Linked DNA regions of Homo sapiens. Each later gene encodes a partner of the first gene's protein in a complex. Each region holds a gene or a part of one and is shown in the gene's direction. Other genes may lie near its edges.

What was found.
Region 2: the proteins of PPARA (region 1) and CREBBP are in contact, whole or in part, in a crystal structure (PDB 9IWL), measured with the Homo sapiens proteins. Residues at the interface, in NP_001001928.1 of Homo sapiens: Val284, Thr285, Thr288, Glu289, Lys292, Phe297, Leu302, Asn303, Gln305, Val306, Thr307, Leu309, Lys310, His457, Pro458, Leu459, Glu462, Ile463; in NP_004371.2 of Homo sapiens: Asp62, Ala63, Ala64, Lys66, His67, Lys68, Gln69, Leu70, Ser71, Leu73, Leu74, Arg75.

The regions. Positions count from the first base shown.
Region 1 is NC_000022.11:46,213,510-46,228,809, forward strand, and holds part of PPARA (peroxisome proliferator-activated receptor alpha), read left to right. Parts: intron 1-1,663; coding exon 1,664-1,824; intron 1,825-4,753; coding exon 4,754-4,892; coding exon of another isoform or gene 4,893-4,896; intron 4,897-6,302; coding exon 6,303-6,505; intron 6,506-15,300. UniProt on the Homo sapiens protein: Ligand-activated transcription factor. Key regulator of lipid metabolism. Activated by the endogenous ligand 1-palmitoyl-2-oleoyl-sn-glycerol-3-phosphocholine (16:0/18:1-GPC). Activated by oleylethanolamide, a naturally occurring lipid that regulates satiety.
Region 2 is NC_000016.10:3,759,963-3,775,262, reverse strand, and holds part of CREBBP (CREB-binding protein), read left to right. Parts: intron 1-569; coding exon 570-694; intron 695-1,332; coding exon 1,333-1,512; intron 1,513-4,276; coding exon 4,277-4,693; intron 4,694-5,909; coding exon 5,910-6,089; intron 6,090-7,353; coding exon 7,354-7,543; intron 7,544-15,300. UniProt on the Homo sapiens protein: Acetylates histones, giving a specific tag for transcriptional activation. Mediates acetylation of histone H3 at 'Lys-18' and 'Lys-27' (H3K18ac and H3K27ac, respectively).

The DNA.
Region 1 (15,300 bases):
CGATTCCCCTGCCTCAGCCTCCCAAGTAGCTGGGACTACAGGCACGCACCACCATGGCAAGCTAACTTTTTCTTTTTTTTTTCTTTTCTTTTTTTTTTGAGATGAAGTCTCGCTCTGTCACCCAGGCTGGAGTGCATTGGTGCGATCTTGGCTCACTGCAAGCTCCGCCTCCTGGGTTCACGCCATTCTCCTGCCTCAGCCTCCCGAGTAGCTGGGACTACAGGCGCCCCCACCACGCCCGGCTAATTTTTTTGTGTTTTTAGTAGAGACGGAGTTTCACCGTGTTAGCCAGGATGGTCTTGATGTCCTGACCTCGTGATCCGCTTGCTCCGGCCTCCCAAAGTGCTGGGATTACAGGCGTGAGCCACCACGCCTAGCCCCCATTTTTCAATTGAGTTGTTTGTTTTAAGACCTCTTTGTATATTACCACATGTGTATTGAAAATATTTTCTCCCAGTCTGTGGCTTGTCTTTAATTTTCTTAGCAATGTCTTTTGCAGAGCAGAAGGTTTCATTAGCTTTCATAGATTCCAACTTATATTTTCTCTTTCATGGATTGTGCATTTGGTGTTGCCCACACAGATTTTTATACTGTATTCTGGTGCCATTTACTGAGTTAACAATTGCGGAAGAACTGGAAGAAAGGAAGCAAACAAAACGAGTTCTGCGTGGCACTGTCAGTGCGGGGGCATGGGGAGTCCTGCAGGGTGAGGTATGGGCGGTATGGCAAGGCGCGGGCCCATAGATGTGCAGGTCTGGAGATGTGTGCAGCGGAGATGTGCGGGCCCGAGATGTGCGGGTCCGATGTGTGGGTCCGGAGATGTGCGCGTACCCAGAGGTGCAGATCGGAAATGTGGGGGTCCGGAGGAAATGTGCGGATCAGGAGAAGTGCCAGTCCCGAGATGTGCGGATCGGAGATGTGGAGGGCTAGGAGATGCGTGGGTCCGGAGATGCGCAGATCAGGAGATGGGCGAATCGGAGATGCGCGGGTCCGGAAATGTGCAGAGCGGAGATGTGTGGATCAGGAGATGTTGGGGGGTCAGGAGATGCGGGGGTCCAGAGATGTGGGGGTCCGGAGATGTGCGGGTCTGGAGATGTGCAGAGCAGAGCAAAGATGAGCTGATCGGAGATGCCCAGGTCCGGGGATCCACGGGTCCGGAGACGCGCGGGTCCGGAGATGCGTGGGTCCAGAGATGTGCGGGTCCAAAGATGTGCAAATCTGAAGATGTGTGGATGGGAGATGTGCAGGTCCGGAGATGCGCGGGGCGGAGATGTGTGGATCGGAGATGCTCAGATCGAAGATGTGGGAATGAGGAGATGTGCGGGGCGGGATGTGTGGATGGGAGACGCGCGGGCCCGGAGATATGCGGGGCGGAGATGTGCGGGTCCAGGGATGTGTGATCTGAGGTGTGTGGGTCCGGAGCTCGGGGTCAGCTCAGCAGCAGTGAGAGCGAGCATGCTGGCTTTGGGAGCACAGCACAATGGCAGCTGTAGGAGTGCAAGAGGGTGTGACCCAGAGGCAGGGCCCGGCCCCGCATGGGTGTTCTGAGGTTTATGCCTCAGCACTAGAAGCCTCGTATGCGAAATCACATCCTCATAGACCCGGTTCAGACACAGGATAGTGATGCCTGGACTATTCATCCGTCTCTCCTCTTTTTCCCCAGACACGCTTTCACCAGCTTCGAGCCCCTCCTCGGTGACTTATCCTGTGGTCCCCGGCAGCGTGGACGAGTCTCCCAGTGGAGCATTGAACATCGAATGTAGAATCTGCGGGGACAAGGCCTCAGGCTATCATTACGGAGTCCACGCGTGTGAAGGCTGCAAGGTAGAGGGGAGCTGGAACAGGGCCTGGTGGCCGCCACCATCAACTACTTATGGTCACTTTTATAGCAAATGGCAGTCATTACTGAGAGATTGCAGAAAGTCCCGGATAAGAAACTGACTTCAGGCCAGGCGCGGTATCTCATGCCTATAATTCCAGCACTTTGGGAGACCGAGATGGGTGGATCACCTGAGATCAGGAGTTCGATACCAGCCTGGCCAACATGATGAAACCCTGTCTCTACTAAAAATACCAAAAAAAATTAGCCAGGCGTGGTGGTGGGCGCCTGTAAGCCCAGCTACTCGAGAGGCAAAGACAGGAGAATTGCTTGAACCCAGGAGCCAGAGGTTGCAGTGAGCCAAGATTGCGCCACTGCACTCCAGCCTGGGCAACAAGAGTGAGACTCCATCTTAAAAAAAAAGAAAGAAAAAAAGAAAAAGAAAAAGAAACTGACCTCAGTGATAGATTAGCCTCTCTTTATAGCACAGAACCCCTGAGAGCGTAAGCCCTGTTGTGAACTGCGTATTTGAGGAATCTAGCTTGTACGCCCCTTATGAGAATCTAATACTTGATGTTCCAAGGTGGAACACTTTCATCCTGAAACTATCCCTCCCCACCCCCATCTGTGGAAAAATTGTCTTCCATGAAACCGGTCCCTGGTGGCAAAAAGGTTGGGGATTGCTGCTTTAGAGAGTCTAGGACAAATGGTTCCTCTGTGCTTTGTAAATACTTAGAGAAGTGCATTCTTTAAAAGAAAATAAGTCACATTGGACCGGGTGCAGTGGCTCACGCCTATAATCTCAGCACTTTGGGAGGCCGAGGCGGCTGGATCACCTGAGGTCAGGAGTTCAAGACCAGCCTGGCCAACATGGTGAAACCCTGTCTCTACTAAAAATACAAAAATTAGCCAGGTGTGGTGGTGGGTGCCTGTAATCCCAGCTACTTGGGAGGCTGAAGCAGGAGAATTGCTTGAACTCAGGAGGCGGAGGTTGCAGTGAGCTGAGATCGAGCCATTTCACTCCAGCCTAGGCGACAAGAGTAAAACTTCATCTCAAAAAAAAAAAAAAGAGAGAAAAGAAAATAAGCCACATTAAGAACATCACTTCATTCGAATACAAGACAGAGAGCTGTTACCGTTGATCTCTGGAGCCTCCCTGAAGGCCAGGTGGGGCAGGTGTTCTCATGCTCCTGCCAGGGAAATTGGCCATCAGAGACACAGAGTATCTTGCTTAGGGTCCCACAGCCCCCAGCAGCAGGGACTGGAACCAGAGACTGGCTGCTCCTGCTCCCCAGCAGTTCCTTCCTGCACATCAGGGGCTTCTCCACCTGATTCAAGCGACAGGAACCCCCTGTGCATCTTCATCCTCCTGCTGGCTCAGCCTGCCCTAAACAGATGTGACCTGGGCCAGGAGTGCATGAAGGCAGGCCCTGTTGTCCTGCATGCTGCCAGCTGGACTGGTGGCCCTTCCGTGTTTGTCAGCGTGGTGATGAGGAGAGCTCCTGTAGCAGCGTCCCTTTAGGGTTGCACAGACGTGCTCAAGTCTGGCGCCTTATGTACGTGATATGTGGGAGATCATCATCTGAATGTTTGGTTTGAATCAGAAATCCCTTCTCACGGTGCACGCTGCAGGTGTTCACTAACTTGGAAAATGCCACCGCCTTTCTGGCACAATGTACCATCTTGGAACACCAGCATTCTGCCCTGAGCCAGGCCTGGCCTCAGAGGCCTGGGCCACAGGGAGAACCTCACAGCCAGGACACTGTGGCACTCTGCTGTCTAGAAGCCTGTCTCCCCACCCTTCCCATTCTAACCCCATGCGTTCCTCAGCCTCCCCACTGTGCAAGCCTAGGTAAGGACATTATGAAGACGTCAGCCTGCCTCTCACATTCCCCTGCACACTGCTGTCCCTCTCCCGCGGGCCAAGCAGACCCACTGTGGCAAAAATATAGAAGAATGACTTAAAAGCAAAGAGAAAAAAGAACCCAAAGCAAAAATGAACTCCTTCGCATGTTTTCTAACCATATACCTTTGAAAAAGCTCCTTATAAAGTGGCCTTTTCCTTAGGGCCATGATTAATTATTCATTTAGTTTTGTTTTTTATGGACTATTTAGTAACATTGTTTCTTGCTGGGTAGAGTTTAAGATGCTTTTACAAAGCAAGAAAATTGTTTACAAACAGCTGGCTTCCTTTTATTATAATTTTTGTCTTTGAGGGAGTTAATATACTCTTACAAAAATTCTTAGAAAGTCTTTAGTCACAAATATGGAAATGTCACAATGCTGGGGATAGTTACATTCATATACATTGTAACAAGGCTGAGTAACTCTTTGGAAAACTATAATTGTGTTTTCCCAAGTCAGATGAGGGCATTTTGAAATGACTTCGAATGCTGCCTCATTTTATTGTTTTTCACATTAAATGTAACGACATTTAAAGTTCTGTATTTGTCCTAATCATTCCAGACTTCTTAGAAGAACTATTTCTTTCTTTTTTTTTTTTTTTTTTTTTTTTTTTTTGAGATGGAGTCTCACTCTGTCGCGCAGGCTGGAGTGCAGTGGCACAATCTCAGCTCACTGCAACCTCCGCCTCCTGGGTTCAAGTGATTGTCCTACCTCAGCCTCCTGAGTAGCTGGGACTACAGACTTACATCACCATGCCCGGCTAATTTTTGTATTTTTAGTAGAGACAGGGTTGCACCATGTTGGCTAGGCTGGTCTCGAACTCCTGACCTCAGGTGATCCACCCGCCTCAGCCTCCTAAAGTGCTGGGATTACAGGCATGATCACCATGCCTGGCCTGGAATAACTTTTCTCTAAATTTTGTTCATTTAAAAAGAAACAATAAATGAGCAACAAAAAAGGTGAGTAAAGCAAGTGCGCTGGTTTCTCAGTGGCCCAGGTCTTTAAATCCACTGTGTATTACCCTCACAGGGCTTCTTTCGGCGAACGATTCGACTCAAGCTGGTGTATGACAAGTGCGACCGCAGCTGCAAGATCCAGAAAAAGAACAGAAACAAATGCCAGTATTGTCGATTTCACAAGTGCCTTTCTGTCGGGATGTCACACAACGGTAGGTAAGGTGGCCCTGCACATTTTCCCAGTTCGTTCCTCAGTTCCCCTTCCTTGCTCCAAGGGAACAGATCAAGCTATGGATGAATGTGCTTCAACATTTCACACCCAAGTCATTTTGTAATCAGAGTGGCCTAAGAAAATAAAAGTCGCCCAGGCGCGGTGGTTCACGCCTGTAATCCCAGCACTTTGGGAGGCTGAGGTGGGTGGATCACCTCAGGTCAGGAGTTTGAGACCAGCCTGGCCAATATGGTGAAACCCCGTCTCTACTAAGAATGCAAAAATTAGCTGGGTGTGGTGGCACATGCCTGTAGTCCCAGCTACTCGGGAGGCTGAGGCAGAAGAATCGCTTGAACCCGGGAGGCGGAGGTTGCAGTGAGCTGAGATTGCGCCACTGCACTCCAGCCTGGGCGACAGAGGGAGATTCCGTCTCACAAAAAAAAAAAAAAGAAAAAGAAAGAAAGAAAGAAAATAAAAGTCTCCCAGGTGCGGTGGTTCACACCTGTAATCCCAGCACTTTGGAGGCCGAGGCGGGTGGATCACTTGAGGTCAGGAGTTTGAGACCAGCCTGGCGAACATGGCAAAACCCCGTCTCTAATAAAAATACAAAAATTAGCTGGGCATGGTAGTGCACACCTGTAATCCCAGCTACTTGGGAGGATGAGACAGGAGAATAGCTTGAACCCGGGAGGCGGAGGTTGCAGTGAGCTGAGATCGCACCACTGCACTCCAGCCTGGGCGACAGAGTGCGACTCCGTCTCAAAAAAAAAGAAAAAAAAAGAAAAAGTCTCAAATAGCTGAGATTCAGTGGTGCATTGGACTCGCTGTTAGAAACTTCAGTGGTAAGACTTTGATACAGAATCGAAAAACCAAGTGGAAGGCACCAAAATGACAGAATGTTCACCTCGTCCATAGGAAGGGTGTACCACCTCAAACATCTCACCACGTTATGAATTTCCTTCTAGCCAATCATTTAATAGTTTCAGAACATGCTAATTGTGATGTGAATGTAAGTCGTTCATAAGAGTTGCATGTCTACCTTCTGGAAAAAGAAGCAGTTATTATATAAACTCATCCCGAAGCCCCGTTCACCTCCTTCACTCAAAGGTTGATGATGCACCTGATAGTGGTGTGCACCCTACTAATGAGACGAACGATGGTGTCACCTTCAGCCTGCACCTGTTAACGATGGTGTCACCTTCAGCCTGCACCTGTTTAAACATCTACAGTGTATGGAGTTTGAGTTTTTCATCTCTCCATAGTGGAAAGCCGAATAGTAATGAAGGATGGGTCTGAACTGCCTGTGAATTTTCATTCCTGGTTTAAAGTCCTGGGGGAGCCCCTCGTCCAGCCCTGTCCGCGCAGTCATGACCTCACTGCTCATGCCTGTGTTTCCCCCTCCAAACCCTAGCGATTCGTTTTGGACGAATGCCAAGATCTGAGAAAGCAAAACTGAAAGCAGAAATTCTTACCTGTGAACATGACATAGAAGATTCTGAAACTGCAGATCTCAAATCTCTGGCCAAGAGAATCTACGAGGCCTACTTGAAGAACTTCAACATGAACAAGGTCAAAGCCCGGGTCATCCTCTCAGGAAAGGCCAGTAACAATCCAGTAGGTGTTTGCGGCTGTTCTGGGTTCTCTTGGCAACATGGAACCAGTGTCGTAGAGGACGATTAAGGACACATGTGTTGAATGTTGAGAAAATTATATTTATCCCACAGTTAAGCAAAGGACAGCGAAGATGGAAACAGTTCATTCTGAGACTCTGAGCTGTAGCTTAACAACAACTCCTTTCTTCTTGCTTGGAGCCACCTCAAAGCTCTTAGCAACTAAGTTATTATACTGGCTATGTAATTAATACACTTAAAAAAAACCTTAATAGCTTACCAAGTACTAAGATGATTTCTTAGGAGCATTTTTTCTTAAATAGAGATAGGTTCTTGCTCTGTTGCCCAGGCTGGAATGCAGTGGTGCAATCATAGTTCACTGCAGCCTTGAACTCCTGGGCTCAAGCAATCCTCCTGCCTCAGCCTCCCAAGGAGCTGGGACTACAGGTGTGCACCACCACACCTGGCTATGTTTGATGTTGTTGTTGTTTTGTTTTGTTTTTGTTTTTTGGTAGAGATGAGATGTTTCCCAGGCTGGTCTCAAACTCCTGGCCTCAAGTGATCTTCCCACCTCGGCCTCCCAAAGCACTGGCATTACAGGTGTGAGTCATGGCACCCAGCATTAACTGGATTTAAAAAAAAAAAAACTGACCAGGCAAGATGGGTCATGCCTGTAATCCTGGCACTCTGGGGAGGCCAAGGTGGGCAGATTGCTTGAGTCCAGGAGTTTGATACCAGCCTGGCCAACATGGAGAAACCCCAACTCTACTAAAGATACAAAAATTAGCTGAGCAGGGTGGCACACACCTGTAATTCCAGCTACTTGGGTGGCTTAGGCATGAGAATTGCTTCAACCCGGGAGGCAGAGGTTACAGCAAGCTGAGATCATGCCACTGCACTCCAGCCTGGGTGACAGATCGAGACCCTATCTCAAAAAAAAAATAGAATAATAAAATAAATCCCTACTTTGAGGTGTATTAGTCTGCTATAAAGAAATCCCTGAGACCTGGTAATTTATAAAGAAAAGAGGTTTAATTGGCTCGTGGCCCACAAGGCTGTACAGGAAGCTTCTGCTTCTGGGGAGGCCTCAGGGAATTTGACTCATAGCAGAAGGTGAAGTGGGAGTAGGCGTCTTGCATGGCAGGAGCAAAAACAAGAGACACACACTTTTCACCCATCAGATCTTGTGAGAACGCTATCACTAGAGTAGCACCAAGAGGATGGTGCTAAACCATTCATGAAGGATCACCCCCATGATCCAGTCCCTCCCGCCAGGCCTCACCTCCACCACTGGGGATTACAGTTCACCATGAGATTTGGGTGGGGACACAGAGCCAAACCATATCATAAGGCTAGAAAAGGAAACCACTTACTTCCCACTCAAAATGTGCTCTTGGTCCTTTCTCCTAAAACTACTCCCTCCCTCTCAGACAAACATGCCTACATTCTTTTTCCGCCTTCAGTGAAAAGACAGTGACATCTTGGGGCTTAGAAAGGGCCACTTGTAAGCCAGGCGTGGTGGCTCACGCCTGTCATCCCAGCACTTTGGGAGGCCAAGACAGGCGGATCACGAGGTCAGGAGATCAAGACCATCCTGGCTAACATGGTGAAACACCATCTCCACTAAAAATACAAAAAATTAGCCGGGCGTGGTGGCGGGCGCCTGTAGTCTCAGCTACTTGGGAAGCTGAGGCAGGAGAATGGCGTGAACCCAGGAGGCAGAGCTTGCAGTGAGCCGAGATCGTGCCACTGCACTTCCAGCCTGGGCGACAAAGCCAGCTGTGTCTGGGCGCGGTGGCTCATGTCTGTAATCCCAGCACTTTGGGAGGCTGAGGTGGGTGGATCACTTGAGGTCAGGAGTTTGAGACCACCCTGGCCAACATGGTGAAACCCCATCTCTATTAAAAATACAAAAAATTAGCTGGGCATGGTAGCGGTTGCCTGTAATCCCAGCTACTTGGGAGGCTGAGGCAGGAGAATTGCTTGAACCTGGGAGCTGGAGGTTGCAGTGAGCTGAGATCGCACCACTGCACTCCAGCTTGGGCAACAGAGTGAGACTCTGTCTCAAAAAAAAAAAGAAAGGAAAAGAAAGGACCACTTGTTATAGAAAGCCTGTCTTTTAAGGTAGCTCTGGACCTTTTCAGAGGCAGCCAAATTGCCCCTCATGGTTCGTCCCCCACATCCCCGCCTGCCTGGCCTAAGTCCTCCTTCCCCCTCCCCAACAGTTAAATAAGTCTTTGTCTCCATTACAAAACAAATCTCAGAGCTACCTTCAAAGAAGAGCCAGCCCTCAGTTGGTGAATGAAGATACTTTGACATTTTCCTATGAGCATGGTGAAACAGGTTTAATTTGTATTAAATAGCTTGAAGCAATCCTTATTGGGAATTACAAGGTGGAATTTTAGTCACAGGAAAATAAAGCATTTCACAAGCTACTTACTTTCATGAACAAACCAAACCTCTTCTTTACTGAGTCCTTTAATTCTTCAGTGAATTCTCCAATTAAATAGGCCGAGACATTTTAGAAGTTTCCAGCAGACACCCACACTAGGCAGCTCCAGAGGCTTGTCCCAATTAGAACTTTCCTGGATTACGAGAGTGAAAGAAAAGGTAACTTTTAGCTTCGAGTCTCTATCCTGGATATGATTAGTACAGCCCAAAATTGGGATGGCTAAAACTTTTGTTTGCCAGCTTATATTTCTCCCTTGGATTTCAGAATTGAAAGCAGGCTGGGCACAGTGGCTCACACTGTAATCCCAGCACTTTGGGAGGCTGAGGCGGGAGGATCACTTGAGGCAATCCAAGAGTTTGAGACCAGGCAACACAAGGAGACCTCGTCTCTACAAAAAATGATTTTTTAAAAAACTAGCTGGGCATGGTGGCATGTGCCTGTGGTCCCAGGTACTTGGGAAGCTGAGATGGGAGGATGGCTTGAGCCCAGGAGTTCAAAACCAACCTGGGCAACATGGCAAGACCACATCTCTACAAAAAATAAAAACATTATCCAGGCATGGTGGCACATGCCTATAGTCCCCGCGACTTGGGAGGTTGAGGAGGATGCCTTGAGGCCAGGAGTTCAAGGCTGCAGCGAGCCACGATCGCGCCACTGCACTCCAGCCTAGGCGACAAAGCGAGACTCTCTAAAAAAAATTCGAAGCAGAGTTAAGTTGTCTTTCTTCCTAACAACCTGCCCCCACCATGGGGTGCGAATGGGACTCCTGGAGTCCTCCTGCACCTCCCCTTGGAGACCACCAAGCTCTAGGAACCCCATCACCCTCAGCTGAGGGTCACATGCAGCAACTAGCAGGCGGGAATCTGTTTGCATTTTGGCCTTAAAGAAATAAATAATAGGCCAGGCGCGGTGGCTCATGCCTGTAATCCCAGCACTTTGGGAGGCTGAGGCAGGTGGATCACCTGAGGTCAGGAGTTGGAGACCAGCCTGACCAATATGGTGAAACCCCGTCTCTACTAAAAATACAAAAATTAGCTAGGCATGGTCGTGGGCACCTGTAATCCCAACTACCCAGGAGGCTGAGGCAGGAGAATTGCTTGAACCTGGAAGGCAGAGGTTGCAGTGAGCCGAGATCACACCACTGCACTCCAGCCTGGGTGACAGAGCGAGACTCCATCTCAAAAAAAAAAAAAAAAGAGGGCCAGGCGTGGTTGCTCATGCTTATGCCTGTAATCCCAGCACTGTGGGAGGCAGAGGAGGGCGGATTACCTGAGCTCAGGAGTTCGAGACCAGCCTGGGCAACATGGTAAAACCCCATCTCTACTAAAATACAAAAAATTAGCCGGGCATGGCAGTGTGCGCCTGTAGTCCCATCTATTCGGGAGGCTGAGGCAGGAGAATGGCGTGAACCTGGGAGGTGGAGGTTGCAGGGAGCCGAGATCACACCGGTGCACTCCAGCCTGGGTGACAGAGTGAGACTCCATCTCAAAAAAAAAAAAAAAGAAAGAAATGATAGATGAATAGTTTAGGATTGGGGTTCACAATTTGGTTTTCTGTAGAAAAAGAGAACCGGGCACTCTTCCGAGAGTCAGATGCCCTCTTCCACCCACACCCACAAAGCCAGAGCACCGCAGGTACCAGTTTTCAAGGCAACCTCCAACCATCATGTGACTCTTTGTGTTTGATCACACTGTTTGCTCCAAGCCAGGGTTGCGTCCCACCCCATGTCCTTGTCTGCGCACGGGACGCTGGAGGCACGGCCCCCTCCTCCCTGCCTAGCCTGCTGACGGGCTTTCCAGAGCTGGCTCCTTCAGGTGCAGGATACCCTCTCTGCTTAGTCTGGGAAAAGGCCCCGTTGGCAGGATGCCCACCACCAGGCCACACTGCCTGAATCTATTGGCAGAGCTCTGGTTTTGTGGCCAAGGTGGGTAGTGGAAGACCATAGCCTGTGTCCCTTACACATCTCAGAAAGCAACCCCATCTGTGGGCAAGAAATCTGTTAGGGAGACCAAGCAGCGGCCTGGAAACACCTTGATCTCTGCCCAGTGGCCCACATGCGGTCGCCGTTTCATCAGTTTCCAGCCTGGGTGACCTCACAGCCCCAGCCACGCCCCACAGAGCCTCAGGAAGGCACACTGACCTCAGGGCCGGCGGCTGACTTCATTTCTGTTTGGGGATGAGAGGCGGCACAGTAAACTGTCCAGGCCAGTAAACTAATGGATTCATACGAACCGTAATGAACGTGGGCTGTGTGCTGGGGAAGGCAGGCTCGCCTCCTCCCTGCAGGGGCTGCTGGGGTGAAAGCAACCCTGAAATGTTCAAAGCCTTGATGGGGAAGCACGGGGGATGGATAGATTTTAATTTCAAAGCAGCCCTCTGGTTTGCTATAAGCGGGGGACTGAATTTCTCTTTGCAGTGGCCAATGCCTTTCTTCTGTCAAGATCAGCTCGTGGCCTTCAGATCAGATGACGCAAAGCCCCATGGCTGAGCTGGAACAGGCTAGAATGCTGGGGGGGGGCCTGAAACCGGTGGGGGAGTTGTGGGAGGCCTAGAATCAGCCAGGAGGCTTGGGTCGGGGTTGGAACCGGCCAGGGTGCACGGAGGAGGCTGTGGGGGCAGGGGGAGGCCGCTGCATGGAGCCGCATAGATGCCATTGCTTGAGGAAAGGTGGGCTTTAGCTGAGGGAAGGAGTGAGGGGTGGATGGAGAATGTCTGTGTCCATCTGGACACTGGGACTGTTTGAGCCCCTGAGATTTCAGAACCGTGGGCCAGAAAATGGTCAGGGCCCTTGGTGATGGGGAAGGGCGCCTCTGGGGAACTCACTGCCCCTTGATTTGAGGGTAACAGGGATGGAAGCAGAGTCAGGGGGCTGAGGGAGGCAATAAAAATGGGTGCTTTTCAACAGTGTCTAAAAACATAAGATGTTGACCTGTCAGGGGTTGAGAATGTCGTCAGAAGACTTTGGAGGAAGCAACAGAAAATGAGACTGAGGGGCTTGGGCAGAGTCAGTGCCTTCTGTGTGATGCACGCTCATGCACAAATGCACGCACATACCCACACTCACACATCCGTGCACACACGGGTACACACACATACACGTGCACCCACATGCATGCTCACACACATGCACCCACAGTCACACATCCATGCATGCATGTGTACACAAACACACCCACACATACACATGCACCCACACGTGTACACAGATGCACCTCCACCCCCATACATGCACATGGACACACACATGCACCCACACGCACACAAGCATCCATGCTCACATGGGTACACACTCACACATCCATGCATGCACGTGTAAACACACACACCCCCACACATACACGTGCACCCACACATGCACACAGACGCACCTCCACCCCCACACACGCACACACACACATGCACCCACACATGGATACACGCACACTCACACATGTACCCACACCTGTGTGTACACACACACATGCATGCTCACACACATGCACCCAGGCACACACAAATCCACATTCACCCATACAGTCACACACATGCATACACACACATACAAACACATGCATTCACACAGATGCATACACACACACACTTACAAACTACACATGTGCTTATACATGCTCACATGCATGTATATGCACACACATACCCTCACCTTATGCACACATGTACCCACACACGTACCCACACATATACAAGCATGCACACATATATATATATACACATGCTCACACGCATACCCACACTCACATGTGTGCACATATGCTCACACACACGTGCACACACATGCTCACACACACACTTACTGTTGCTCAGGCTTAGCTGCTTTGGGCTTAAGAAGCAAACTGCACCTTCCAAAAAATGAGTGTGGTGTTCAGTTAAACAACCAAATAATTCTTTAGCACTGAATATGTGGACTTTAGAAATTCAAACTATAAGGTGATAATAACGTTGTCCTGCTACTTTTTAATCTAACAAACATATCAGAACTGACACTCAGTTCAAATGAAGAAAGTAGGAATTGGGCGTGCCGTGTTATTTTTTCAAAGATTCTCCTATTGCTCCAAATTGTTGGGGATTATCTTAAAGTCTTTGAATAGCTTCAGTTATGGAAGATTTTACCCTCTGAGAATAGAACTGAATTTTAGACAAACCATGAGTCCATTGTAGCTAGACTGGCATGCAAGTTGGGATTAAACAGAGTAAAACGTCTTGTTTAAAAAAATAAGAAAGGCCGGCTTGGGCAACATAGTGAGACCTCCTCTATGAAAAGTTAGCTGGGCATGGTGGTGTGCGCCTGTGGTTCCAGCCGCTCAGGAGGCCGAGGCAGGAGGATGGAGGTCAAGACTGCAGTGGACTGTGGTTGCGCCACTGTACTCCAGCCTGGGTGACACAGCAAGACCCCGTCTCAAAAAAAGAAAACAGAAAAAAGAAAAAAAAAGTTGAGCAAGGAGACTAATTTGTGACATGCAGCTGAACATGGTTTTTAAGACCAGTTTTGAAAGAGGAATTCCAACATTATTCTTAACATTTCAGAAGCCTGGGCATAAGGGTGACCTCCAGGGTGCCGTGTTATAACAGGACTGCTCCTTTCAACAGCTATGACCTTATACCATGTCTTGGGGTGTTGCCTGCCGTGTGACAGTCCAATATTATACCTACTACTTAAGTTTTCTTTAGATTAAAAAATGTGCTTCATATTTTATGCCATTTCTACAAATGTATAGTAAAACATAACCAAGAGAGCTTATTAAATAATTTCATCCAAAGCAGTTCTACCAGTGCTTCACATTTATTTTTTATTTATTTATTTATTTTTGAGACTGAGTCTCACTCTCTTGCCCAGGCTGGAGTGCAGTGGCGCAATCTCAGCTCACTGCAACCTCCCCCTCCTGGGTTCAAGCGATTCTCCTGCCTCAGCCTCCTAAGTAGCTGGGATTACAGGTGCCAGCCACCACACCCGACTAATTTTTGTATTTTTAGTAGACACGGGCTTTTGCCATGTTGGCCGGGCTGGTCTCGAAATCCTGACCTCAGGTCATCCACCTACCTTGGCCTCCCAAAGTGCTGGCATTGCGGGCATGAGCTACTGCGCCTGGTCCACATTTAATTTTTTGCAAAAAGATGACAGCTGCTAACAGAGATGAATTCTCATGAGTGATATCATTGAGCTTCGTAGGCCACATGAGTGTGTGCCGGGACCAGTGTGGCAGCAAGCGGGGCGTTCTGCTCTCGGCATGGAGTGATTGGGGAAAATCTAGGCAGCTTCCTGCCTCACGCTGTTTAAAACCTTTATAATGTGCTTTATTTCATTTATTTGAAATGACTGCCTGTCGTGTCAGATATATTCATAGTCAAGCTTGAGTATAAAAGGCATATTCCAAAGTTAAATATAAGCTGCTGCATAGATTTTTTTGTAAAATGATCTCACCAAGAATGTTTATCCATAAAGTTTAGCGAATTTGCAAGTGTGTTTTTCAACAGCATTTCTCTTTAGCTTTAATAAACATTGGTTTCTTCATGGTACCACTCATTTTGAATTCAGTGGTCTCCAGTTCTCCCTGCTAAATGAGGCCCACTTTCTAAAACCAAAGTGATAATTTTATAAAAATGAAATGAGATATTTGTTACCACAGAAGTCCTCATTTACGAGAGTACATCCCCATAGAACTAGTCCACGGTGAGCCTCAGGGGCATGCAAGCTGTTTAACGATGCCCCCAGCCTAGAAAGGCCCAGGCTTGGGTGTTCATGCTCCGCTGTTGCCTTCTTGAAATTCATAATCATCTTTGAACAAGGGGTCCCGCAGTGTGTGGTGGCTCACGCCTGTAATCCCAACACTCTGGGAGGCTGAAGCGGGTGGATCACCTGAGGTCGGGAGTTTGAGACCAGCCTGACCAACATGGTGAAACCCCATCTCTACTAAAAATACAGAAATTAACCAGGCGTGGTTGGTGGGTGCCTGTAATCCCAGCTACTCAGGAGGCTGAGGCAGGAGAATCACTCAAACCTGGGAGGTGGAGGTTGCAGTGAGTCGAGATCACGCCACTGCACTCCAGCCTGGGCAACAGAGCGAGACTCCGTCTCAAAAAAGAAAAACCAAGGGGTCCCACATTTGCATTTTTGCTCTGGGTCCTGTAAATTACGTAGCCAGGCCTGCATTTGTCCTGGGAGATGCTCTACCAAAAAACAATAAATAACACCAAGCATTCTGTAATCAAACACTGTAGGAACCCCTGCTTATCCTAGCCTCATTCTCATTCTGGAAGACTGCACATTTATCATGTTAAAGACTCAGCTAGGGAGGCCCAACTTCATTCAACTCAGTGTTTCTTATTTTTTTAAAACAGAACTCATTTTT
Region 2 (15,300 bases), on another chromosome or scaffold:
ATGCTTAAGGTGCTTGCAAAATTAAAAGAACATTTGGAGACTTAGCACAGATTCTAACAATGAATGTAAACCCAGCAAGGAGCTGGGAATCCTCGGATGATGGGCGTCAGCTGCTCCAGAGGCATTAGGTATGGGTGTGCACAGAAGCTTGCCCTGGTCTCTGGAAACATCTCTTCTGTAGCTTGTGAGGGTGCTGTCCTTTCAGGGCACCTCCTCACCCTCTTTGTTGCTATGACACTTTGGTACTGTGCCCTCTGGCTCAGCTCTACCACAGCCTCGTTTAATGTCTCACTTGTTCCTGTCTTACCCAACCTTATGCCTTCATGTCCTCGTCCTTCCCTGGTACCCCTCACCATGCCACCGTCACCACCCCCACATTGATGCCGTTTTCTCTGGATATGGAGAAGTCTGTTCCTTCATCATCTTCATTGATTAATTGGGTGATTTCTTTTCAGTTTTCTGTTGCCTGTGCGTTCCATCTTATTTTACTTAAGAGTTTATTTAGCAAGTTGTAATTCTGTTTTCCTGTGGGTGCTTTTCCTAATGAACCGTTGTGGGTACATTTACAGGGATGAATTCATTTAACCCCATGTCCTTGGGGAACGTCCAGTTGCCACAAGCACCCATGGGACCTCGTGCAGCCTCCCCAATGAACCACTCTGTCCAGATGAACAGCATGGGCTCAGTGCCAGGGGTAAGTGTTCTCTTTCGCTGTGCTGCAGATAGCCCTCCCTCTCACATGGAACATTATCTAAGCAGCAGAATTCATGTCACTTGAGAATCCTGTGGTTCTTGTTCCTTTGAATTTGGGTTATGCTTTATTTCTTTCATCTCTCATTTTAAAAAAATTATTACTACACAGAATTATTTGACTGTTAGTTATTTTATTGGAATAACAAATTCATAGGAATGTGTGGCTTTGTGAGAATGTGGGAGTTCCAAGGCTGGAGAAGGCAGCCTCAGATATGTGGCCAGCAGGGAATTGTCAGCATCTGTTGACTGAGAGCTCGCTGTTCCGAGGCTGCTTTCTAAACACTTTAGAGAACTCATAGGCATGTCTTAAACTTTAAATTATAGCCTGCTATTGATTTCTATTCAGAGGACATTTTGAAGCTGGCTCATTTGAGAGATTGCCTGAGAAAGTGTGTAAGGTGCCCAGGAGCGCGGGAGTTCTTAGCAAGTGGTGGTCTCTTCCCATGAGGAAGGGCAGGATGTGAGCCCTGTGCTTGCCATCCTCTGGGGTTGTGAAGCCTTGGATCATTCTGGCTCACCTTGAAAACTCTGGCCGTCAGCTTCCGAACTACAGCTCTGGTGGTGCTTGTTGTCTCGTAGATGGCCATTTCTCCTTCCCGAATGCCTCAGCCTCCGAACATGATGGGTGCACACACCAACAACATGATGGCCCAGGCGCCCGCTCAGAGCCAGTTTCTGCCACAGAACCAGTTCCCGTCATCCAGCGGGGCGATGAGTGTGGGCATGGGGCAGCCGCCAGCCCAAACAGGCGTGTCACAGGTACTGTGCCCCACTGGGACCGTGGCTCCCTAGGAAATAAAATTCTTGTGTTAAGTTTTGGTTTTTTTTTTCTGTCTTCCTTCGTGGAAATTAAAATTCCAGAATGCACATTTCATGTCTTTGTATCAGCTTCTCTTTGTTTTCTCCACCTTTGTCCTGTAGTCCTTAACTCGTTTGGAATTTCTCTTATCCTTTCTGGGTTAACTATATGCAAAAGTGGGAATGGATTTAGAATTTTTGGTTTGTATGCTTTTGTGTTTTGATCTTTGAGTTTTTGTTTTCTTATTTTTTGTTTGTGTATTTTAAATTCTAACTTTAACGTGACCCTGAGAGGCATTAGGATTTTAAAAAGCGAGTGAGAAGGACCCATGAATTCACTCTTGATGATTTGGCTTTTGTTTCTTTTGACCTGTCTCCACTGCCAGGTGAAATCAAGCTAACAGAATCATTTCAATAGTTCCCTTCTTGTTAAATGTTTTTAATTTCTCAATCTAGAGCTGAAGAAATTGATTTTCCATTTATTCCTTCCTTTTTTCCTCTTTTGTTAGTTGTAGTGCGTATCATTGCTACTGTATACAAAATATACATGTATTTAAAACACACCAAATCCTCCCTAAAAGATAAAATTCTTGTTTTAAGTTTTTTTTTGTTTGTTTGTCTGTTTTAAGACAGGGTCTCGTTTTGTTGCCCAGACTGGAGTGCAGTGGTACAATCTCGGCTCTGCAACCTCCGCCTCCCGGGTTCAAGCGATTCTCCTGCCTAAGCCTGCCAAGTACCTGGGGTTACAGATGCCCGCCACCACACCCAGCTAATTTTTTTTTTTTTTTTTTTTTTTGTATTTTTAGTAGAGACGGGATTTCACCATGTTGGCCAGGCTGATCTCGATCTCCTGACCTCAGGTGATCCACCCACCTCGGCCTCCCAAAGTGCTGGGATTACAGGAGTAAGCTACCGTACCCAGCCTTGTTTTGAGTTTTTAATGTGAAATAATGCTGCATAAGTCATTATTATATATTAGATTTCCTCACTAAATGATTATTCTTAACTTTCCATAACATTTCATTTCTCTAGAACAAGGATTAGCAAACTTCGTGTAAAGGGCCAGATACTAAATATTTTCAGCTTTGCAGGCCATTCAATCTTGGTTTTCATCACTTCTGTTCTTGTAGTGCAGAAGCTGCTGTGGTACATAAATGAGGTGGCTGTGTGCCAATAAAGCTTTATTTACAGAAACAAGCAGCTCAGTGTGTTTGCCCTGGGAGATTGCCAACCCCTGCTCTAGAACAGTGATTCAGAATCATTTTTAAAATGTTCACAAATAATTCTGAAGTGTATCCCCAGTATAGAACCACTGCACTGAAACAGTTCTCTTTCAGTAACTAACGTGTGTGTGTGTGTGTGTGTGTGTGTGTGTGTGTGTGTTTGTGTTTCAGAGAGAATTTTTTTTTTAAATTTTTAATTGTTAAGGGTACTTATGGATGTATATATTTATGGTCAATAACTTTTATTCTTATTTTTATTTATTTATTTTATAGTCCCCAGGGAAGAAGCAACTTAAAAAAAAAATACCTTTTTCTAAGCTAAGCTTAGAAAATGTTAAAGAACATTGGGTACATGTTATAGAACATGAAGCTTATAGGCTGGGTCAATGTACAGTAGCTCCCCCAATCTGTCATTTCACTTTCTGAGGTTTCAGTTACCTGGGGTCAACTGTGGTCCAAAAATATTAAATGGGAAATTCTGGGAATAAACAATTCATAAATTTTAAATTAATTAGCTAGGCATGGTATTGCACGCCTGTAATCCCAGCTACTGAGGAGGCTGAGGCAGGAGAATCACTGGAACCCGGGAGATGGAGGTTGCAGTGAGCCAAGATCATGCCATTGCACTCCAGACTGGGTGACAGAGCGAGACTCTGTCTTTTTTTTTTTAAAAAAAAAAAAAAAAAGTTTTAAATTGAGTGCCATTCCAAGTTGCATGATGAATTCTGTCACCATCCCACTCTGTGCCCCCAGGGATGTGAATCATTTATTTGTCCAGCATTTCCACACTGTAGACACTACCCACCTCTTAGTCACTGAGTGTCCACCTTGGTTGTCAGATCCAAAAATCTTGGTAAATATTGGGTTCAGTACTATCCGCAGTTTCAGGCGTTCCAAGACTGGGGGTCTTGGAATGTATCCGAGTGGATATGAGGGGACTGCTGTAGATGTGTGTGTTTAAGCCATAAGTTTCAATGGTTGTTTTAATTATATAAATCAGACTATAAGAAACGTGTGTAGTTTTACCGTTATTGAGGAGTGCCCATTACAAGTGTATAGCTCGATGAATTTTCACAAGCAGAACACTCCCAAGAAAATGTGATTAAATTCCCATACATTTGGCTGGGCGCGGTGGCTCACGCCTGTAATCCCAGCACTTTGGAAGGCCGAGGCGGGAGGATCACTTGAGGTCAGGAGTTTGAGACCAGCCTGGACAACATGGCAAAACCCGATCTCTACTAAAAACAGAAAAATTAGCTGGGCGTGGTGACGGGCACCTGTAATCCCTGCTACTCGAGAAGCTGAGACAGGAGAATTGCTTGAACCCAGGAGGCGGAGGCTGCAGTGAGCCGAGATCGCACCATTGCATTGCAGCCTGGGCGACAAGAGTGAAACTGTCTCAAAAAAAAAAATTTTTTTTTCATACATTTAATTTTTCAAATGTTTCATCACATTTTCAAACGGGGGAAATAATTTTACCATACTCTGTCCATTTCTGGTAGGGACAGGTGCCTGGTGCTGCTCTTCCTAACCCTCTCAACATGCTGGGGCCTCAGGCCAGCCAGCTACCTTGCCCTCCAGTGACACAGTCACCACTGCACCCAACACCGCCTCCTGCTTCCACGGCTGCTGGCATGCCATCTCTCCAGCACACGACACCACCTGGGATGACTCCTCCCCAGCCAGCAGCTCCCACTCAGCCATCAACTCCTGTGTCGTCTTCCGGGCAGACTCCCACCCCGACTCCTGGCTCAGTGCCCAGTGCTACCCAAACCCAGAGCACCCCTACAGTCCAGGCAGCAGCCCAGGCCCAGGTGACCCCGCAGCCTCAAACCCCAGTTCAGCCCCCGTCTGTGGCTACCCCTCAGTCATCGCAGCAACAGCCGACGCCTGTGCACGCCCAGCCTCCTGGCACACCGGTAAGCCTCTCTGTCTCTGCTGTTTTTGGGCCAAGACTCTTAGAAGATAATTTTCCCATAAAAATTGTGTGTCAGGCCAGGCGCGGTGGTTCACACCTATAATTTCAGCACCTTGGGAGGCCAAGGTGGGAGAATCACTTGAGCCCATGAGTTCAAGACCATCCTGGGCAACATAGTGAGACCTCGTCTCCAGCAAAAAAAAATTTTTTTTAACCAGACAAGCATGGTGGTGTGTGCCTGTAGTCCTGTAGTCCCAGCCACTCAGAAGGCTTAGGTGGGAAGATCACTTGAGCCTAGGAGGTACAGGTTACAGTGAGCCAAGATCACGCCACTGTACTCCAGCCTGGGCAACAGAGCGAGACATTGTCATCTTTTGTTTGTTTACTTAAAACTCCATTGAGGCTGGGCGCGGTGGTTCACGCCTGTAATCCCACTACTTTGGGAGGCTGAGGCAGGCGGATCACCGGAGCTCAGGAGTTCGAGACCAGCCTGGCCAAAGTTGTGAAACCTTGTCTCTACAAAAATATAAAAATTAGCCGGGCATGATGGCTGGTGCCTGTATTCCCAGCTACTCGGGAGGCTGAGGCGGGAGAATCGCTTGAGCCTGGGAGGCAGAAATTGTATCGAGCCGAGATTGCGCCATTGTACTCCAGCCTAGGTGACAGAGTGAGACTCCGTCTCAAAAAAAAAAAAATTCCATTGAGTAAGAATTTGCAAATTAGGAATTCTTTTAGTGGTTCCTTCGTGTAATGTTCATTTACTCCACCAGCACCCGTGTTCCTACCGTTCACACAGGCTGGGTAACACTGTCTTTGGGTAGGCACTTGATTTCCCTCCCTTCAGATGTGCTTAGGCATTCATAATTCAGCCTTTTACCATACACATTAACCACCATATTGAAGGGAATTAATTTCAAAATATGAGATTTCATGATTTAGCTAGAAAACTTCGAGAAAATAAATTTATGTCAAAGTTTGAAAAGCTCTGCTGTTTCCTCTGCCTTTGTGGCAAGACCTGAGTTGTACCTCTGGCTGCTGTTACCTCCCTCTAGAACTCATTCCTACTTTAACCCCTGTTCTTCGGTTTCACAGAAGGGCACCTGCTGGATCAGTATTGAGAAATGTTAATGGGAAATTGTAGGTTGCATGAGCAGCATAGTTGAAGATCATTTATGTTACCTTGCTTACTGAAGTCAGTGCTTTCGGTTTTTTCACAGCTTTCCCAGGCAGCAGCCAGCATTGATAACAGAGTCCCTACCCCCTCCTCGGTGGCCAGCGCAGAAACCAATTCCCAGCAGCCAGGACCTGACGTACCTGTGCTGGAAATGAAGACGGAGACCCAAGCAGAGGACACTGAGCCCGATCCTGGTGAATCCAAAGGGGAGCCCAGGTCTGAGGTGGGTGCCGCTCCCTAGGAATGCATTGACTGCGTATCGCAACTTTACCCAGGTGTCCTCGGGCGAGGCTTGGAGCCTGCCATGGGTATCCCTGACTTTAGTTAAAATATTCTGTTTGAATGTGGGTTCGGGGTTTGGTGTATAGGAAATTGATTGAAAACAGCTTGGTTTTTCATTTTTAAATATGAGGGGTGGGTTTATTTTGCCCGAAATGAAGAATACTGGCTTATATTTGAAATACTTGAATCATCCAACAGCCTTTTATTTTATGTTCTCCATTCATTTCTAGTTCTGCAGAGGTAGACTACAGAAGGGGTGGTGGATTCATTTACTAATTAACCTATGGCAGAAGCTGAAAGCTGGCAGACCGTGGGCTGGATCCAGCCTCTAAATGTGTTTGGCCCACACAATACCTTAAAAATCAGGAAATTGCAAATAAAACTCTAGATTTCTGGCTTTTCTTGAAAAATGAGATGCTTTCAGCATTGTGCCTGCATCCCTGTGTGACAGCAGTCTGGTTGTGAGCACCAACTGTAGTGGGCTCTCCAATTAGCCACAGTCCCCACTGCTCCTTCCTGTCTCATACCACACCTGCCTCTGAGAAGGACTTTTGGTCCCTGCCCCAACTTTCAAGGAGATTTTTATTCCAAATTAGAAATATCTGTAGTGAAAAATCTGAGTATGTGCAATTTTTAAAGCAGTTTTACATTTAAAAACTTTTAAATTAGGCTGGGAGCTGTGGCTCACACCTGTAATCCCAGCACTTTGGGAGGCCGAGGCAGGTGGATCACTTGAGGTCAGGAGTTCGAGACCAGCCTCGCCAACATGATGAAACCCCATATCTACCAAGAATATAAAAAATTAGCCGAGTGTGGTGGCACACACGTGTAATCCCAGCTACTCGGGAGGCTGAGGCAGGAGAATTGCTAGAACCCAGGAGGGGGAGGTTGCAGTGAGCCAAGATCTTGCCATTGCACTCCAGCCTGGGTGTTAGACTCTGTCTCAAAAAAAAAAAAAAAAAAAAAAAAAAAAAAAAACACTTTTAAATTTAGGACCATAATTGCACTGACTCTGTGCTGAAGCGACTTAATGAACACCAAGTACTTTATTTCTTCTTCCGGAAGAGAAGAGGAATCATAAATGCAACTCTGACTAGAGGAAGGTTTTAACAAACCTGTTTTAGGCTTGTAAGAGTCTTCCCGTGAGGTTGCGGTAACATAAAGGTGTTTGATATTCATATGTTATCTGTAATGTTTTTCTCAAGATGATGGAGGAGGATTTGCAAGGAGCTTCCCAAGTTAAAGAAGAAACAGACATAGCAGAGCAGAAATCAGAACCAATGGAAGTGGATGAAAAGAAACCTGAAGTGAAAGTAGAAGTTAAAGAGGAAGAAGAGAGTAGCAGTAACGGCACAGCCTCTCAGTCAACATCTCCTTCGCAGCCGCGCAAAAAAAGTAGGCCATTTATTCATTACCTTATTAAAGCATGCTGCTTTTCCACGGTGTTAGGATTCCATGTGGAGGATTAAAAGCTAAAGTAGAAACATAATTCTATCTGCCCTTTTACCTTTCTTGCCTGCCATTCCCCAGACTTTCCCCTGCAGAAACACTCAGGCTGAGCAGGACCCCTGCCCTGTGCCTGTGGGGCTCATGGCAGGAGTGAGAGATGAGCTGCTGCTCCGAGGGCACCCAGGCTGCAGAGCTGTCTTCTGATGGTGCTGGCAGGGGCCGAGTTGAAATGTGTCTGGGTCCTTGAGCAGGTTAAGGAGCTTGGCTTTACTCATAAAAGTATAAAGAACCAGTGATGTATGTGAGTAGGAGAATAACCAAAAAAGCCATAATTTAAGGAAGATGGTCATTATGACAGCACAGGGTGACTTGGAGGCAGAAGGTTTCTGCAGGTGCAGTGAGGAAGCTGAGCATGCAGAGTGAGGGGCAGGGTGGCGCCTAGGGACCCTGTGTAGTGAGACATGGGGGAGGGGTAGGTTAGGCATCTTTGGGGTCTGAGATGTGTGAGGTAAGCCCGCCTCACAGTGGAAGTTGGATGGAATCCATTTGAGATGTATCCACAGTAAAGAGATAACAGGGTATCAGAAAATTGTCAAGTGAACCTTAGAAATGGGAGACAGGACTCAGAAAGTCCAAGGCTGCAGATGACACTTTTGGGAAAGATTGCAGAGAAATGTTAGAGACTGAGACCATGTTACTCTGCAGCTGGAAGGGACCCTGGAGAGTGTGGAGTACAGTGAATCTCAGGGCTCTTTATACTCTTAGAAATTGAGGGCCCCAGAGAGTTGTTGTGTGGATTATCTATCATTGCTTACTCTACTGGAAACTAAAGTTGAGAAATTTGAGTACAGTGGCTTACACCTGTAATCCCAGCACTTTGGGAGGCTGAGATGGGAGGCTTGCTTGATGCTGGGAGTTCAAAACCAGCCTGAGCAACATAGCAAGGCTCCATCTCTACAAAACTAAAATAAAACTAGCTAAGTGTGGTGGTGCACGCCTATAATTCTAGCTGCTCGAGAAGCGGAAGCGGCAGGATTGCCTGAGCCTAGGAGTTTGAGGCTGCAGTGAGCCCAGATCACATCACTGCACTCTAGCCTGGGAGACAAAAGTGAGATTGTTGTCTGAAAAAAAAAAAGAGAAAAATTTTTAAATATTTAGTTCATTTAAAATAGTCTGTTACATGGCACCCATAGAAAACATTTATATGAAAAACAATTTTTCCAAAACAAAAATAAGTAAGAATAGTGGCGTTATTAAGGGTATCTGCCTCTGCATTTACTGTGTTGTGATTGGTTATTTTGGTTGAAGTGTATGAAGAAAATCCTGTAGTTGGTAAAGGGAGAAGTATTTTCGTAGCCCTTTCAGCTGATTGTGGATATTCTTTGATACTATACCAAAATTCAGCCAGTGAAGGTTTCTTAAAGGTTAGTTGCGACATTGAACCAGAATCTATAGCACTGGATTTTTCATAGTCTGTGACATTAGAATCCATTGATCCATCTTGTACTTGGAATGGATCTTTTGTGCTTGCATGATTTTTTTTTCAATTGACACTTAAGTTCTGCAGATTTTCCATATGTTGACATATTTCACTATACAGTGTCAAAAAAAAATCAACATTTGTTAATACCACCATCAGTCTCTTCAAACAAGTCTTACCAACTTAGAAAAGCAGGGCGTGCATGGTGGCTCACACCCGTAATCTCAGCATTTTGGGAGGCTGAGGGGGAAGGATTGCTTGAGCCCAGGAATTCAGGGTCTATGATTGCACCACTGCACTCTAGCCTGGAGCTCAGGAGTTCGAGAGCAGCCTAGGCAACATGGCGAAACCTAATCTCTATTAAAAAAAAATTAGCTGGGTATGGTAGTGCATGCCTGTAGCTGCAGCTACTCGAGAGGTTGAGGTGGGAGAATCACCTGAGCCTGGGAGGTCAAAGATGCACTGAGCCTTGATCATGTCACTGTACTCCAGCCTAAGTGACAGAGTGAGGCCCTGTCTCAAAAAATAATACTAATAATAAATTTTGAGAAGCTGTGAAGCCCATGTACAAGTTTTCCAAAGCATTTGATTTTTTTATGAAAGCCCAAATTTTAGCATTGGCAACAAATACTGTCAGTTGTCCTTGAAGTAACTGGCCCTCTTTGTTCATTTCTGAGAAAATGTCTGACATATAACCAGAGCTTAGTAACTATAGCTTATCTCTCAGTCATTCCTGAAAGTTTTAATGTGCTCCACGAGGGCAAGCAGCTACTTCAGCTGTAAATTCCAACACTTGCCCAAGTACTGCCTCCTGATGTGGCCACTGTGCCTATGCAGCGCACATCTTTTATTCTGTGTGAGGAGATAGGCAGAATGTTTCATCACACAGAATAAAAGACATGTACCAGGCGGCCAGACGCGGTGCCTCACACCTGTAATCCCCGCACTTTCGGAGGCCAAGGCAGGCAGATCACGAGGTCAGCAGATCAGGACCATCCTGGCTAATACGGTGAAACCCCGTCTCTACTAAACAAAATACAAAAAATTATGCGGGCGTGGTGGCGGGCGCCTGTAGTCCCAGCTGCTCGGGAGGCTGAGGCAGGAGAATGGTGTGAACCCAGGAGGCAGAGCTTGTAGTGAGCCGAGATACTGCACTCCAGCCTGGGAGACAGAGCGAGACGCCGTCTCAAAAAACAAAAACAAAAACAAAAACAAAACAAAAAAAAAAACCACACACATGTACCAAACGCTTAAGATTTAATACAAGGAATACTTTTTACTATCTCATCAAGAATATTTTTTCAGCCAGGTGTGGTGGCTCACATCTGTAATCTCAGCACTTTGGAAGGCCAAAGTGGGAGGATCACTTGAAGCCAGGAGTTCAAGACTAGCCTGGGCAACATAGTAAGACCCTGTCTCTACAAAAAATTAAAAATCAGCCAAGTGTGGTGGTGCATGCCTGTAGTCCTGGCTACTCAGGAGGCTGAGGCAGCAGGATCACTTGAGCTCAGGGGTCCAAGGCTGCAGCAAGCTGTGATGCCACTGTTGGACTCCAGCCTGGACAACAGAGCAAGGCCCTATCTCAAAAATAAATTAATTAATTAAGAAATGAGTGGACACAGTGGCTCCCACCTATAATCCCAGCACTTTGGGAGGCGAACACAGGAGGATTACTTATGGCCAGGCGTTCAAGACCAGCCTGGGCAACGTAGTGAGACCCTGTCTCTACAAAACAGTTTAAAAATTAGCCAGGTGTGGTGGTGCACCTGTAGTCCCAATGGCTCAGGAGGCTGAGGTGGGAAGATTGCTTGAGCCCAGGAGGTTGAGGCTGTAGTGAACCATGATTGTGCCAGTGCGTTCTAGCCTGGATGAGAGAGTGAGACCCTGTCTTAAAAATAAAGAATATTTTTTCTTGGCTGGGAGCAGTGGCTCATGCCTATAATCCAAGGACTTTGGGAGGCTAAGGCAGGAGGAATACTTGAGGCCAGGAGTTCAAGCCAGCCTGGGCAACATAGCAAGAACCCATCTCTACCCAAAAAAAAGAAGAAAAATTTTAAACAAATTTTCTTAAGCATGGCTGGTATTTTTTTTCTTGTGACTGTACAGCAGCAGCAGTGTGTGTGATAACAGTAGAGTTTGGTGATGTTGGCTTTCTTTTCCTTTGTTTTTGCTTTTTAGCTGGGTGTGGCAGCATGCGCCTGTAGTCCCAGCTACTCGGAAGGCTGAGGCAGGAGAATCACTTGAACCCAGGAGGTGGAGGCTGCAGTGAGCCGAGATTATGCCACTGCACTCCAGCCTGGGCAACAGAGTGAGACTCCTTCTCAAAAAAAAAAAAAAAAAAGATTGCTTTTTTCCCATCTGTGCAGATGTCCAACATAGTGCAAAAGGCAAATGATAATTTAGTGTTATAAAAATTGTTTCAGGCCGGGCGCAGTGGCTCACACCTGTAATCCCAACACTTTGGGAAGCTGAGGCGGGTGGATCACCTGAGGTCAGGAGTTCCAGACCAGCCTGGCCAACATGGCGAAACCCCGTCTCTACTAAAAATACAAAAATTAGTCGGGCCTGGTGGCGCATGCCTGTAATCCCAACTACTCAGGAGGCTGAGGCAGAAGAATCACTTGAACCCAGGAGGCGGCAGAGGTTGCAGTGAGCTGAGATCGTGCCATTGCACTCCAGCCTGGGCAACAAGAGAGAAACTTCGTCTCAAAACAAAATTGTTTCAGGCTGGGCTTTGGGGTTCACACCTGCAACTCCAGCACTTTTGGAGGCTGAGGTGGGAAGATCACTTGAGGCCCAGAGTTCAAGACCAGCCTGGGCAACATGGTGAGACCCTGTCTCTGTAGAAAAAAATAAGAAAATAGCTGGTTATGGTGGTGCATGCTTATAGTCCCTCATGCTACTCATGAGGCTGAATTAGGAGGGTTGCTTGAGCCTAGGAGGTCAAGTTTGCATGCAGTGGGCTGTGATTACGCTACTGCACTCCAGAAGACCTCGTCTCAAAAAAAAAAAAAAAATTGGTTTCAGTTTTGGTGAAATAGTTTTCATCTTACAGCACATAGAAGGGCCTAGGGCAGTGCTATAACTTGAGCACCTAAAATGTGACCAGGGTGGCCGGGCGTGGTGGCTCACCCCTATAATCACAGCACTTTGGGAGGCCGAGGCGGGCGGATCACGAGGTCGGGAGATCGAGACCATCCTGGCTAATACAGTGAAACCCTGTCTCTACTAAAAGTACAAAAAATTAGCCGGCCATGGTGACAGGCGCCTGTAGTCCCAGCGACTCGGGAGGCTGAGGCAGGAGAATGGCATGAACCTGGGAGGCGGAGCTTGCAGTGAGCCGAGATCGCGCCACTGCACTCCAGCCTGGGCGACAGAGCAAGACTCCGTCTCAAAAAAATAAAAATGTGACCAGGGTGACCGAGGAACTGAGTTTTTTATTTTTTGTAATATTATTCGTTTGGTAAAATTTCAGTAGTCACAGGGGCTGGGGACTGCGATATGAGACAGCAGCCTCCAAGGGCTCGAGAGCCGCGTTTTTGGGAGATGCTGGTGCGCTGCAACAGCCCTGCCGCGTGGAGCAGGTCCTCGGGCCAGAGGAGGGGAGCGGCGCAGTTCACATACACTCCTGACTTCACTTCTGCACATATGGGATCTTCTTACAGAAAGGTGCTGGTGAAGACAGGAGTCTGAAAATGCTCTCCTCGGCCAGGCACCGTGGCTCACGCCTGTAATCCCAGCACTTTGGGGGCCGAGATTGCACCACTGCACTCCAGCCTGGGTGACAGCGCGAGACTCCATCTCAAAAAAAAAAAAAAAAAAAAGGAAAGAAAATGCTCTCCTCAGCACGGAATTTGAATAGTTATTTAATGAATGAATAAATGATCAACCAAAGTGACACTTGTTTCAGGCCCTGTCACTCCCGATTACCACTGGGGCGGTGACAGGGTCTGCAGGCCTTCTCCGTGCAGAGGCCCAGTGATCCACGCTGTGGGCTTTGTGCGTCCTGAGGCCTCTGTTACCACTCCTCAGTGCTGCCACTGTGGCACGGAGGCAGCTACAGATCCTATATAAACGAATGAGCACAGCTATGTGCCAATAAAGCTGTATTTTTGGAGACTAACACTTGAATTTTGTGTGATTTTCACATGTCATGAAATAGTATTCTTTTCTTTTTCTTCTGCCAAACATTAAACAATGTGAAATCCATTGTTAGCTCTTGGGCCATACAGAAAAGCAAGCAGCTGGCCACATTTGGCCTCTTGGTCATAATTTGCCAACCCCTCATTCAGAGAAATCAAAAGGCTATTTGTTACATAATTGTTTTCTCATAAAAAGTTATTCAAAGACTAGCAAATGCTGCTTCGTCTGTGCATAAAACAGAAGAAAGGAGTTAGTAGGAAGCAAGGCTGTGTGTTTCCGACGCTTCCCACTGTGAAGGGCACGTCTGCACCCTGGACCAGGCCTTTGCACCTTCAAGTGCTGGGGACCGTGTGCGTGGGGAGTGCTGCGTCGGGGTTTTTACCTGGTTGCCCGGACCTCAGGCTGCTGTCAGAGGTCTGAAGCAGCCACGTGCCCTGGAGAGGAGGCGGTGTCTGCGGAGGTTGGTCAAGAGTCTGTATCCTGGGCTTTGATGGAAATGAGCCCTGAGGCATGTTCTTGGTGCGCCTGTTTTCATCTCTAAAGTGAGCCTGTTAAACACATGGGTTTTTCCTTCCAACTTTTAACTTTTGCTTTCACCAGTTAGGAATCAGATGACGCTTTCCAGAATTTGTCAAGTTAGACCATCCCCACCCCACACAGAATTGATGGCAGGTCCATGTACCTGATGCTTGCCGCTTCCCAACTGGAACTTTAAATGTTTACCATATTTTAATCTGATTTTTAAATTACAGTTTACCACTTACCTGTTGTAAGAAATCTTTTCAGCCGGGCATGGTGGCTCACACCTGTAATCCCAGCACTTTGGGAGGCTGAGGCAAGCAGATCACATCACCTGAGGTCAGGAGTTCGAGACCAGCCTGACCAACATGGAGAAACCCAGTCTCTACTAAAAATACAAAATTAGCTGGGTGTGGTGGTGCATGCCTGTAATCCCAACTACTCGGAAGGCTGAGGCAGGAGAATCGCTTGAACCCGGGAGGCGGAGATTGCAGTGAGCCAAGATCACGCCATTGCACTCCAGCCTAGACAACAAGAGTGAAACTCCGTCTCAAAAAAAACAAATCTTTTCAAGATACAAAAAACAGACCAGGCCCAGTGGCTCACACCTATAATGTTATTGCTTTGAGAGGCTGAGGCAGGAGAATCACTTGAGGCCGAGAGTTCAATACCAGCCTGGGCAACATAGTGATATGACAAGATCACTTGAGCCCAGGAGTTTGCAGCTACAGTGGCTATGATGGCGCCACTACATTGCCCTCCAGCCTGGGCGTTGGAGCAAGACTCTGTCTCTAAAAATATAAAATGAGATGGGCATGATGGCTGGGTACAGTGGCTCATGCCTGTAATCCCAGCACTTTGGAAGGCCAGGGCGGGTAGATCATTTGAGATCAAGAGTTTGAGACCAACCTGGCCAACATGATGAAACCCATCTTCTACTAAAAATTACAAAAATCAGCTGGGCGTGGTGGTGGGCACCTGTAATCCCAGCTACTCGGGAGGCTGAGGCAGGAGAATCACTTGAATTCAGGAGGCTGAGGTTGCTGTGAGCCGAGATCGTACCACTGCACTCCAGCCTGGGTGACAGAGCAAGACTCTGTCTCAAAAAAAAAAAAAAAAAAAAAAAAAAAAACCTGGGCATGATAGCTTAGTGCCCGTAATCTCAGCACTTTGGAAGGCTGAGGCAGGGGGAGCGCTTGAGCTCAGGAGTTCGAGACCAGCTTGGACAACATAGTGAGACCTCATCTCCATAAAAAATTTAAAAATGAGTCAGGCATGGTAGCACACACCTGTAGTCCCAGTTACTCCTGAGGCTGAGGCAGGAGGATGGCTTGAGCCTGGGAGGTTGAAGCTGCAGTGAGCTGAGATGATGCCATTGTCCCCCAACCTGGGCAACAGAGTGCGACCTTGTCTCAAAAATAATAATTTAATTAAAAATTAAAGAACACCAAGAAAAAATACATCACTTATAAGCTAAGGCATCAGAATGCCTGAGACATCTTTGCCTCCAGTTTCTTCTCTGTGTGAGTGAACATGAGCCAGGTGGGGTCGTGACACGCTG